Regions from separate parts of the Homo sapiens genome. Here region 1 is linked to region 2. Evidence: fine-mapped expression QTL. A gene starts in region 2. The other region holds a variant in brackets. All regions are shown on one strand. Distances are from middle to middle.

Evidence for each region. PIP is the estimated chance that this variant, and not a neighbour inherited with it, causes the effect. A credible set is the group of variants that fine-mapping cannot tell apart.
Region 1: its variant is the best candidate, but not a certain one, in a credible set for the expression of ADAMDEC1 in subcutaneous fat (GTEx, PIP 0.88).

The regions. Positions count from the first base shown.
Region 1 is chr8:24,347,706-24,353,041 of GRCh38, reverse strand. It overlaps ADAM28 (ADAM metallopeptidase domain 28), which reads right to left. Exons shown (of 23, transcript NM_014265.6): 19 at 3,070-3,178; 20 at 1,732-1,810; 21 at 990-1,055. All of the region lies in intron 3 of ADAM7-AS1 (ADAM7, ADAMDEC1 and ADAM28 antisense RNA 1), which reads left to right. Among named protein-coding and RNA genes, the nearest start is that of ADAMDEC1, 34 kb to the left of the region's middle. The variant G/A (reference allele first, on the strand shown) is at 1,949.
Region 2 is chr8:24,381,771-24,387,164 of GRCh38, reverse strand. ADAMDEC1 (ADAM like decysin 1) reads right to left here and starts at 2,880. Exons shown (of 14, transcript NM_014479.3): 1 at 2,573-2,880. The coding sequence starts at 2,660. It overlaps ADAM7-AS1 (ADAM7, ADAMDEC1 and ADAM28 antisense RNA 1), which reads left to right. Exons shown (of 6, transcript NR_125808.1): 3 at 1-4. RefSeq lists an enhancer at 1-12.

The sequences.
Region 1 (5,336 bases), 34 kb after region 2:
TGTGATATTTCAAGTTAACCTCAAAAGTACACATCCTGATAACCGATGGATGTGGAGACAGTATTTGCAATGAGCAGGTGAGAGATTAAAAATTCACCAATGACTATCTGATACTTACAAGCAAAGAAGATGATATAGGTGCAGGAATTGGCGGTGGTGGAAAATCTGGCTTTGTAATTAGCTAGTAAAAGGATAAAACATTTACATTCAAAGATAGGGTCCTGAAAATAGGCGTGCATAAAGAAAAGACTTAAATCATTTTCAGAAATGGAGAAGCCATGACCCCACCCATGAGAATATTGTAAAATATGAGTTTGATTGCTTTCATTTAGTTGTACATACACAGTTGAGACCTAAGTCCAATGTCAATAGGTATCTGATAAAGATGATTGCTATAAACTGTATGTTTGTGTCACCCCACAATTTCATATGTTGAAACCCTAATCCCCAGAATGATGGTATTTGGAGGTGGGGCCTTTTGGAAATAATGAGGTCGTGAGGGTGCAGCTCTCATGATAGGATTAATGCCATTATAAGAAGAAGCACAAGAGAGATGCTCTCCCTCTGCTATGTGAGGATACAATAAAAAGGCAGCTGTCTACAAGCCAGAAGGCCGCTTCACCAGACACTGGATCTGCCAGCTCCTTGAACTTGGACTTCCCAGTCTCCAGAATGTGAGAAGTAAATATCTGTTGTTTAAGCCACTCAATCTATGTTAATTTAGTTACAGCAGCCTGAGCTGATGAAAACAGTGGTACTCTATTAAGCAGATTAGTCCTCTTCTTGTCACAAGTTGGCATGGAGTGACATACATGTTCATTTTTTTATATTTTCAAAATATTTTGCAGAAGAATTTGTATTTTATATTAATATTCACATAGATTTCAATATTGTCCTGAAGAAATAATGAAGTGTTGTGGGCTATGACTTTCACCGATATTTCCTGGAGATTGAACTAGGGTGGTATTTAAGAGAAGTTGCTAACTCACAAAAGAGGCTGGGGGCTCATTGCCTTCTACTGGCAGATCATACACATGGGGCTTCATCTGACTCATCTGAAAAGAAGAACGAATATTTCAAAATGAACCATTAGTTTCATAAGCACAGTTTTTAAGTAATTTTTAAGTAAGCACTTTTCAAGGCATGGAAGCTTGGAACTAAGCTGACACCAAGAGACCAGATAGAAAATCACAGTGGTCCTGCTGGCGTATTCCATAGAAGTATTTCCCAGAGCTGTAATGAAAAGTTTTCATCAAAAAATGATTACCAATGTTATAAATGATTACCAATGTTATTAACCAACTTCAGCTAAAATCTTTAAATTTACAGGACATGAGTAGGACATTTGGGTTATAAATATTACATGTATTATCATACAGACATACATATTTTTGTATCTATTTTGTCAATTTGCAAAGAAATAAGCTAGAGGGAGTGTGTGTGTGTGAGAGAGGGAGAGAGAATGAAGCAGAGACAAAGAGAGAGACAGACAGACATCCGGTATGTGCATTCTTTGTTCTCTTTATTCTGTTTGCATTTCATGAACCCCGGCAAAGTAGCCTCGGCATTTTAGGGACTCTTTTGCCTTTAACAAAAGGCAAAGGAGACATTTCTGAATGTGTTACTGCAAAACGCTGCTGGGTAGAAATGATAGATAGGTAGTCAGGATAAGAGTGTGAGAGAAACGCAAAGTGGGGCCATGGTAATCACAGCCCAGACTATATAGTTCACCTCTTGGGGTTGAACAGCCTTTACCATCTGGGGTTTCCTCTTCTGTTTGTGTGGCCTGGTGCCAGTGGTAGATAGTGGCCTGTAAGAGAGAAACACATGATATCAATTGACTTAGCAGCTCCTTCAGCATGACAGGGAAACTCCGTAGAAGATTCCCAACTTCTTTTTCCCATTGTGTCTTTCTTGCCTATTGCCTGGGTTTTTATCTGCTCCCTGG[G/A]TCAGTTTTTACTTCCCCGTCAGCCTCTTTCATTGCCTTGTAATTCATAATCACTACTAGTTTTCTTTTTTCTCCAAAAACCCCTGACTTCTAAAAATGATAGTGTTGAATCCAAATTTTATCTAAATTATGTTGTTTTATTAATGTCTTACTCAATATTAAAAAACTCATCATGAGTAAATAAGTCTTTCTTTAAAAGTGCTAAAAAAAAAAAAAAAAAAAAAAAAAACACCGTTGTGCCAGAATCACGTTCGTGAGACAAACCCAGCCTCCACCACTTACTCTGCAAGACTGAAAGCATGTTTGCTAATAATCTCTCTGAGCTTGTTTCTATATCCATCAAAATGTGAAGTTCCTAACCTTGCAAAATTGTGTAAGGGTTAGCATAAAACATTTCTCATCTGTAAAATGAAACTCATGACCACTTTATGAAGTTCTTGTGAAGTGTAAATAAGATAATAGATATAAAAGGGCTTAGCACACGGCCGGGTGTGGAGACTCACACCTGTAATCCCGGCACTTAGGGAAGCCAAAGTGGGTGGATCATTTGAGGTCAGGAGTTTGAGACCAGGTTGGCCAACATGGTGAAACCCCATCTCTACTAAAAATACAAAAATAACCCGGTGTGGTGGTATGTGCATGTAATCCCAGATACTCGGGGCTGAGGTAGGAGAAGTACTTGAAACTGGGAGGTGTGGAGGTTGCAGTGAGCCGAGATCGCAGCATCGCACTCCAGCCTGGGCCACAGAGGGAGACTCTTGTCTCAAAAAAAAGTGGGTGGGGCGGTGCTTAGCACAGTGCTCATCGTATATTGATCAAATAATGTTAGATATTATATTCTTACAACAAATTCAAAAAATCTGTCATAATGAGAGTTAATATCACTCTTATTATTATAACTACGGTGACTAACAGAAGGAAAAACAAAAAACATTTCTAGATGTGAAGGATTTCTCAGTTAAAGGGAAACCCAGTTTCTCGTCCAAAAAGACCATCTGCATGTATTTCTGAATATTAGAAGTAAACCAATTCAATTTGAAAGGATAGGTTATACATTGAATTTAAAGTAAAGTAAAATAGGGGTCAAAGAGTCCCTACAGCAAGATAAGATAAAGGATCACCTCTGATCTTTCTTCTGCTTTTCTCTGGAGCTCTGGTGCCGGATTACCATAGCAACCACCACAAAAATGACCGCCATTGGGAACAGCACCCCAACCACAATGGAGAAGTCTGCAGCAGAGAACAGGGGCCCGCTGAGGACTGCAGAAACACACATCTGCACAACACACTAGTCCTTGTTTCTTTACTTAGCACATATTCCAGCTACCCTTTTCTCCAATGAACATAAATTCCCATAGCCAGTAAAATGAAAAAGTATTTTGATCAGGATAATTATATTAATATTAGGTAGAATAAATACACATGAAATCTATAGGAAACATTTAACATGAAATAAGTTAAAAATCATAATATTGAGAATACTTAGATAATGTTTGTAACAACTGGGAAATGAGCTGGGAGATTAGAAGAGAATATACAGTAAGGAAGATGGCAAAGAAGAAATGAAACATTTTTGAAAAGCAGTCTTGGAATAAAACAGAGAAAAAGAAACTAAAACTTTGAAAATACATTCCTGTCATTAGTGAATAAGAAGCTGAGGTGTGACTAAGAAGACAAATAATCGAGTGTTCCACTGATGTTGGTCTACACTGGAATTAGACAGGAAGTTATGTGACCTTGAGAATGAGGAAATGGTTTGAACAAATATTCCTGGGCCTCCATGGTGTTTTTTCTTGTACTGACAAATTTAAATAATGAATATAACTTCACTCTTTTGCTCTTAACTGTTCATTTCTCTTACAATAATCTGAAACCACAAGAGACCAGGAAGGAAAAGATTGAAAAGCAATGCCAAAAGTTACCGTTCTCTTATTACAGAAATCAGCAAACCAATAGCATGATTAATATTTGTATAAATGCAAGAAAAGTTCACAAGTGTGAGCACACACACACATGCAGATAGAGGTAGACACATCAGAAGCAGAATTCTAGGTAAGACAATGACTTTAGTTCAAATATTCGCTACTCGCCACCCTCCATAAGATTCCAATCCAAAAAGTCAAAGGAAAATAAAACAGTGAAGCATTCTGTTATAGTGTAGATACATTCAGAATGAAAAACATACACTTACTTGCACTAATATCAGAACTGTAACTATTTTCAGAAGAATGACATATTATCAGAGAAATAAATGGGAATTTGGCAGTACTTCACAAACACACCAAACTTGAAAAGACATGGTCTGGAGCTAAAATTGGGGCACAGGACAGATGGAAGTATAACAACGGAAGGTTTGCAGGTGAAGATAGAAATCACTGAAGAGTAAGTGCAGCCTCTTCTTGTTTCTGGTAATGGTGGACTAGGAAATTGAGATCAACCTGCCCATTAAAAATAATCTTTTAATCTTTAAATTTTTTGCAAACAAGCAAACAAAAGCATCCTAAAAGTATAAAAGTACTTAAATGTTAGATAAAATTACTTTGTAGAGATTAGTGAGTGGGCAAGGACCTGGAGAGACAGAAAATAATCCTAGATAAAAGTTCAGAAATGCAGAAAGAAATGAAAGGCAAATGAACCAACAGCAAACCCTAATGTAAACTGTGGGCTTGGGGTGATAATGATGTGTTAATGTAGGTTTATGGAGTATTTGTTACCATCAACGAATACTCCACGAGAATGGGGGATGTTGATGGTGAGGGAAGCTGTTCAGGAGTGGGAGTTGCTGGGTATATGTCAACTGTCTGTTCTTTCTCTTCAATTTCGCTGTGAACCCAAAACTGCTCTACAAAAGAAAGTAAGTTAAGTTTATTTTTTTAAAAAAGCAAATGAATTGGGAAGTTTTAGGGTAATCATTAAAATATAAAAGAAATGCATAACATCCAAGTTAATAAAATAATAAAATCAATAAGTCTATAAGAAAGTAAGAAAGGAGAGAAAAGGGAACATAAACAGGAAAGACAAATAGAAACTATATAATTGTGGATTTATACCCAAGTACATCAGTAATTACATTTAATTTAAACGGACTAAGTTCCTCAGTTAAAGAAACAAACAAAAACCAAAGATGTGAGTACTACTAAAAACTATATGTGCATGCTTTCTTTAATAAAAGAAAAAAAGACTTAAAACGTGATTCAGAAAGGATAAAAATGAAAATATGGAAAAATGTTATTTCAGGGCAAATACAGACCAAAACAAATACGTTACAGCTATATGGTCTCCAGGAAGTGTATATTCTCAAAGGTAAGAAGTGTACTAGATAGACACAGCACCATTTCATCATGATACACTGTTCATTAATTTGGAAGAAGCAACACTCTAAACTTGT
Region 2 (5,394 bases):
TCAGGTACGTGAACTCATTGCTTTCAACACTTCTAAAGAAATAAGAAAAAGCATTAGAGAAAACAGAGCCACTAGCCCATTTATGAAAGGATTAACTGAGGCCATAGCAGACAACTTCCATATGACCCCATGGGACTGGTCAGTGCTAGCTAAAACAACTTTAGAGACCAGTAAATACCCCCTCTGGTGAACAGAATATGATGAGTTGTGGGAACAACAAGCCAACCAGAATCAATTGGCCTGGCAAAACATAACAGCTGCTCTCTGGCCACTAGGGCCAGGCAGCTCTAGCTAGCTGCTCTTACACTGCATACCTGTGTCTGAGTACTCACTTCATCGGTCAGCCAGGGTCTGCGGGACAGACCCGGCAGGAGAGAGAAAATTTAGGATGTTAATTGGCAGAAGAGAAAGAAAAAGGATATTCATTTTAAGTTGGGATAATTTTTATATGCTGATGGGAATGATTCCATAGAGAATATGGAATAGATACAGTAGGAAGGAGGGAAAATGTTAGGTCAATGTCCTTGTATGAGAAGGGATAAGATCTAGAAGACAAATGGAGGTGTTAAGCCAGCACAGATAGGTCAGATAGAGGAGCAGAAGGTAAGGCTGATCATATAGGGACAAGGAGCAGTAGATTGGTGAATATGGCAGAACGCCAAGTAAAACCTTCTTGCAATCCCTCCCATTTCCCCCAGAAACTTCTGGCGTGGTTTTATACACATAAAGCAATACAAATGTAATGCTGAAGTTCATTTTGCTTAGCAGTTCAGTGAGTACAAGTTTGTTTGAAAATGATTGTTTCATGCACTGTTAAAAATGATGGTAAGATTTTATGGAAGTTCCAGAAAGTTGTGAGATTGAAAGAAGAATAATTTACCAGATAAGATTGTGTATGGGTAAACATAAGAACATTACCAGGTATAAAATTATATAGTTAACTGCAACCTAATGAATATCTTCCAAAATAATAGCTTTCATTGTTAACTATTGGGTTATCTAAAGTAATAGGGAGGAATGTTTAAAAATGTAGGGCTACTTGGGCACTATGGGCATCATAGACTATCATCAAATTCAGAAGTATTTCAGTGACTTTTTCAGCAGAATATTGTGAGAACAATATTAATAGAAACAAGTTTCACTTTTCTAGAAATGTATCTATGAGTATTTTGAGACCTCTGAGGAATGGGGGGAAAAAAGATATGTAGATTTTTTTTTTTATTTCAATCAAGTTCTATTTCATTACATGTTGTTTGACTTCTCTTTAGGTACAATTAATTCTCATCCGACAGCACAGGCACAGTTGTTCAGTTGGTCAATTAATGTTTTCTTTTGTTTAATAATGCAATTATAATGTATTACATCTGATTTTTGTTTAATAATGCAGTTATATATGATTTAGCCCTCATTCTATTTTAAACTCTTCTCTGTCTTTCATCCTAGCAGAGCTATGATTCGGAAGTTGTCTTAAATACATGGATTTGATTTTTGGCCAGGAAGTTAGTTCTGTGTTGTCATTGGGATGGTGTGTTTTAGAAAAGAAAATAGATCTAGTAGAGTTATTAAATAAGAAATACAGTTCCAGAGACATCCTTACTAAATCATTATGCAAATTACAAAGTGTTGACTATAAGCCTGTCTTTATATGTTTATATGGATCAAATAATTGAATTTGAAGACTTCAGTAAGCTGTGTGTATATATCGCATAATTATTGGTATAATAATTACTCCATTTTATCCTTCTTTTGGGTATAGTATTGGTGATGCACAATGAGGAAATGTAAAAGAATATGAAGGCTAGAGCCAGCCGTATGTGTGCAGCTTTTGCACGGCAACTTTTAGGCAAGTGGGAATTTTGTGGGGAGCTTGGATAACTCCTCAGCTATGTACTTTACCTGTTTCAATATAGGGTTTAGCACAAATGTGTTTATACATGGAAATACGTAGGTTTACAGCTTGGCTTTTAACATGCTTATTATGTGATCACTAGTAAAATAACCAGTGACTTGAAAATTATTTGTAGGGTGTGTATAGTGTGTCATCAAAATGGTTCATCTATCAATAATATCAATAATCAATCTCAAAGACAAAAAGGGTTCCTTTTCCAGAACTAGTCATTTTGACCCTGTCATTCTGCTTTTAAGAATTTTTCTCAAGGAAATATCCCAAAGTGCAGATTTTTTAAACAGCCATGATTCATGAAGATGTTAATAAAATTTTATTTAGTAGAGAAAAGACATAATGAATGGAACAATATGTAGCTTTTTTTTCCTCTATTTTGGAAAATATTGTGCAAACATAAAATTTGTTAAAATATATAACAATTGGAGGAAATAGGACAAATTTTAGAATCCATGTTTCATATAGTGGTTTAAAATATCCTCACTCAAAAAGATACACATACTTATGTATATATAGTTCGCTTTTGCAGAGAGGTAGAAAATCTACCAAAATGCAAATGGTAATGGTCTTTCGACCATAAAAACATATGCCATTTTTTTTCAAAAGGCACTTTAAACATTCATCAAATAATTTGACTTTTATGTAAAATGCTGGTGTGATGGTACGTACCTTGAGTTTGAACAATGAGCCAAAGTACAGGCAGCAGGACCCAAGACATGGTGGCCACTGCAGGTAGCTGGGAGATCCCACGCAGCATGAAGTTGTGGTCTCCCCAGTGTCCAGTTTTATCTTCTCCAATTTCTCTTTAGAAGTTGAACAAGAAAATTAAAACCCCCACTTTTCGTGTGAGATTGGGGAATGTTTCTTAAGAGTGTTGGGAAATTGTCAAAAAATTGCAGTGTCAACATCATGAGAATGTTCCTCATCTTTGAGAGATATTTATGGCTGTGGTTATAGCTCATTGAGGACTCACATCTGGACACTGTTTGCCCCTGGTGCTCCTATAAGCAGTGGGAATGTGTGAACTGAGACTGAGGTGGTCGCGTGCATATCTACATACTCACCAAACTGGACCATTACGATTGTTGTTCAGTATCCTTATAGAAATAAATCCACATATTTAGGACATATATCAGTATTCTGTACATATTTTGAGATACTGTCACAGTGAACACAGAATCTAAAAAGCACCAGGTAAAGTCCTACAAACCAAGATACTGAAAATCTCTCTAACATTCAGTCTCCTAATGAGTCAACAGGGGATGCTGATAATTTTAACTGCCTCAAGATTCTTATAAAATTCATATGCATTTGCACACACACATATGCACATGCATGTAAAATTGTAAAGAAATGTGCATGTATAAGAAATGTACAAGAAATTTAAATAACCTTGACAGTGCTGGCCTTAACCGAACTATACAACATATGAAGTATGTTCGAGGTGTACTTTCTGAGTTCTACCTTATACAATAACAATGTTTCTCTGACAAATATGGTAGATTTTCATGATTATAATATCACAAGTTTATTATGAGAAAAAAGTTGACTGCCAATGATCCGACATCAAGAAATAACTTCTGTTAACGTTTTTACAATTTATTTTCATCTTCTTATGCAGAAAAGGAAAGCTAACCTTATTGGGCAAAGGGTTTAAGAAACTTATTTTTTTTTCCATGGCACTATGACATAAGCATTCTCATGACATTGAATATTAAGACATAATTTTAGTGATTTTAGAATATCATATTTTCTACATATGTGTGTGTTGAGTGTCCATGTAATGTTTGGTTGTGTATATTTCTTTAATTGAATTTCTGGTGACTTCAGGATAAATGTCTAGAAGTGCTATTATTTAGCTAAAAAGGGTAAATCAACTTGAGATTATTGATAAACATTGACTCAGTGCTTTTCAGAAAGTTAGGGCCAAATTAAATCATTATGTATAGTTTTCCCAATCTAAAAACCCATACCTTCTAACTGCTGAACTTAACTTTTCACTGATACATCTGGGAGTTTCCTAACATCTAATTGGAACTTTAAAAATCCCCTCTCTATGTCTATTCTTCACTTTGTTGCTGTTCTACCTTCCTTTAAAATAGTAACATTTTCTCTATAATTTTGCATTTCTTTTTCTGGTCCAGAGATAGGCATCCTTCTTATATCCTTTATGACCCGCCATTAATATTTTAACAAAGTATAATGCTAATTATGTCTCTATCATCAAATAATAAAAGAATCCTGGAATGGTGAACTCTTATCAGTGCCCTACCCTTTAGCACATTACATGTTGTTGTCAAGTATTTTAGTTTATCATGATTTTGACCCCCATGTTACTCATTATTTTTGTGTGTGTTTTCTACAGATGTTTGAAATTATTCATGTGTACCACCTTCTTTGCTCGCAGGTCCTTTTAGCATCAGTTATTTTTTTTTTAATTCTTCATTAAACATATTCTTTTTTATTATTTCTATAGGTTTTTGGGGAACAGGTGGTATTTGGTTACATGAGTAAGTTCTTTAGTGGTGATTTGTGAGATTTTGGTGTACCCGTCACCTGAGCAGTATACACTGAACCCAATTAGTAGTCTTTTATTCCTCACTGGCTTCCCATCCTTTCCCCCTGAGTCCCCAAAGTCCATTGTATCATTCTTATGTCTTCACATCCTCATAGCTTAGCTCCCACTTATAAGTGAGAACATACAGTGTTTAGTTTTCTGTTCCTGAGTTACCTCACTTAGAATAATAGTCTCCAATCCCATCCAGGTTGTTGCAAATGACATTAATTCATTCCTTTTCATGAATGAGTAGTATTCCATCAAATACATGGTGTATATGTGGTGCATATATATGGTATATATGCATGTATGTATGGTATACATCATATATGTGTGTGTGGTATATACATATATACACCAGTTTCTTTATCTACTCTTTGAATGATGGGCATTTGGGCTGGTTCCACGTTTTTGCAATTGTAAATTTTGCTGCTATAAACATGCAATACACAATGAAATACCACCTTACTCACATAAGAATGGCCATTATAAAAAATAAAAAAATCATAGATGATGTTGGTGTGGATGCAGTGAAAGGGAACACTTCTACACTGCTGGCTGGAATGGAAACTAATACAGCCACTATGGAAAACAGTGTGGAGATTCCATAAAGAGCTAAAAGTCTAACTACCACTTGATTCAGCAGTTTCTCTACTGGATGAGATTTGGCTATCTTTTGGTGACCATTATTGCTGTGGACAATTTTGCTTTCTGGCTATTTAGCGGGAACTAATTTGCTTATTAATTATACAACTAGTATTGCTAGGGCAGTTGAATATTTATTGAAATCATATTAAAGTTGTGTTTCTAATAAATTGCTACTACATTTCTAAGGATTCTAAGCTGACTGATACTGTCCTTGCTATTCACATATTCCCACAATAAAGTCTAATAATGGAGACACAACCACAAACAGGTAGTCTGTACAAATATG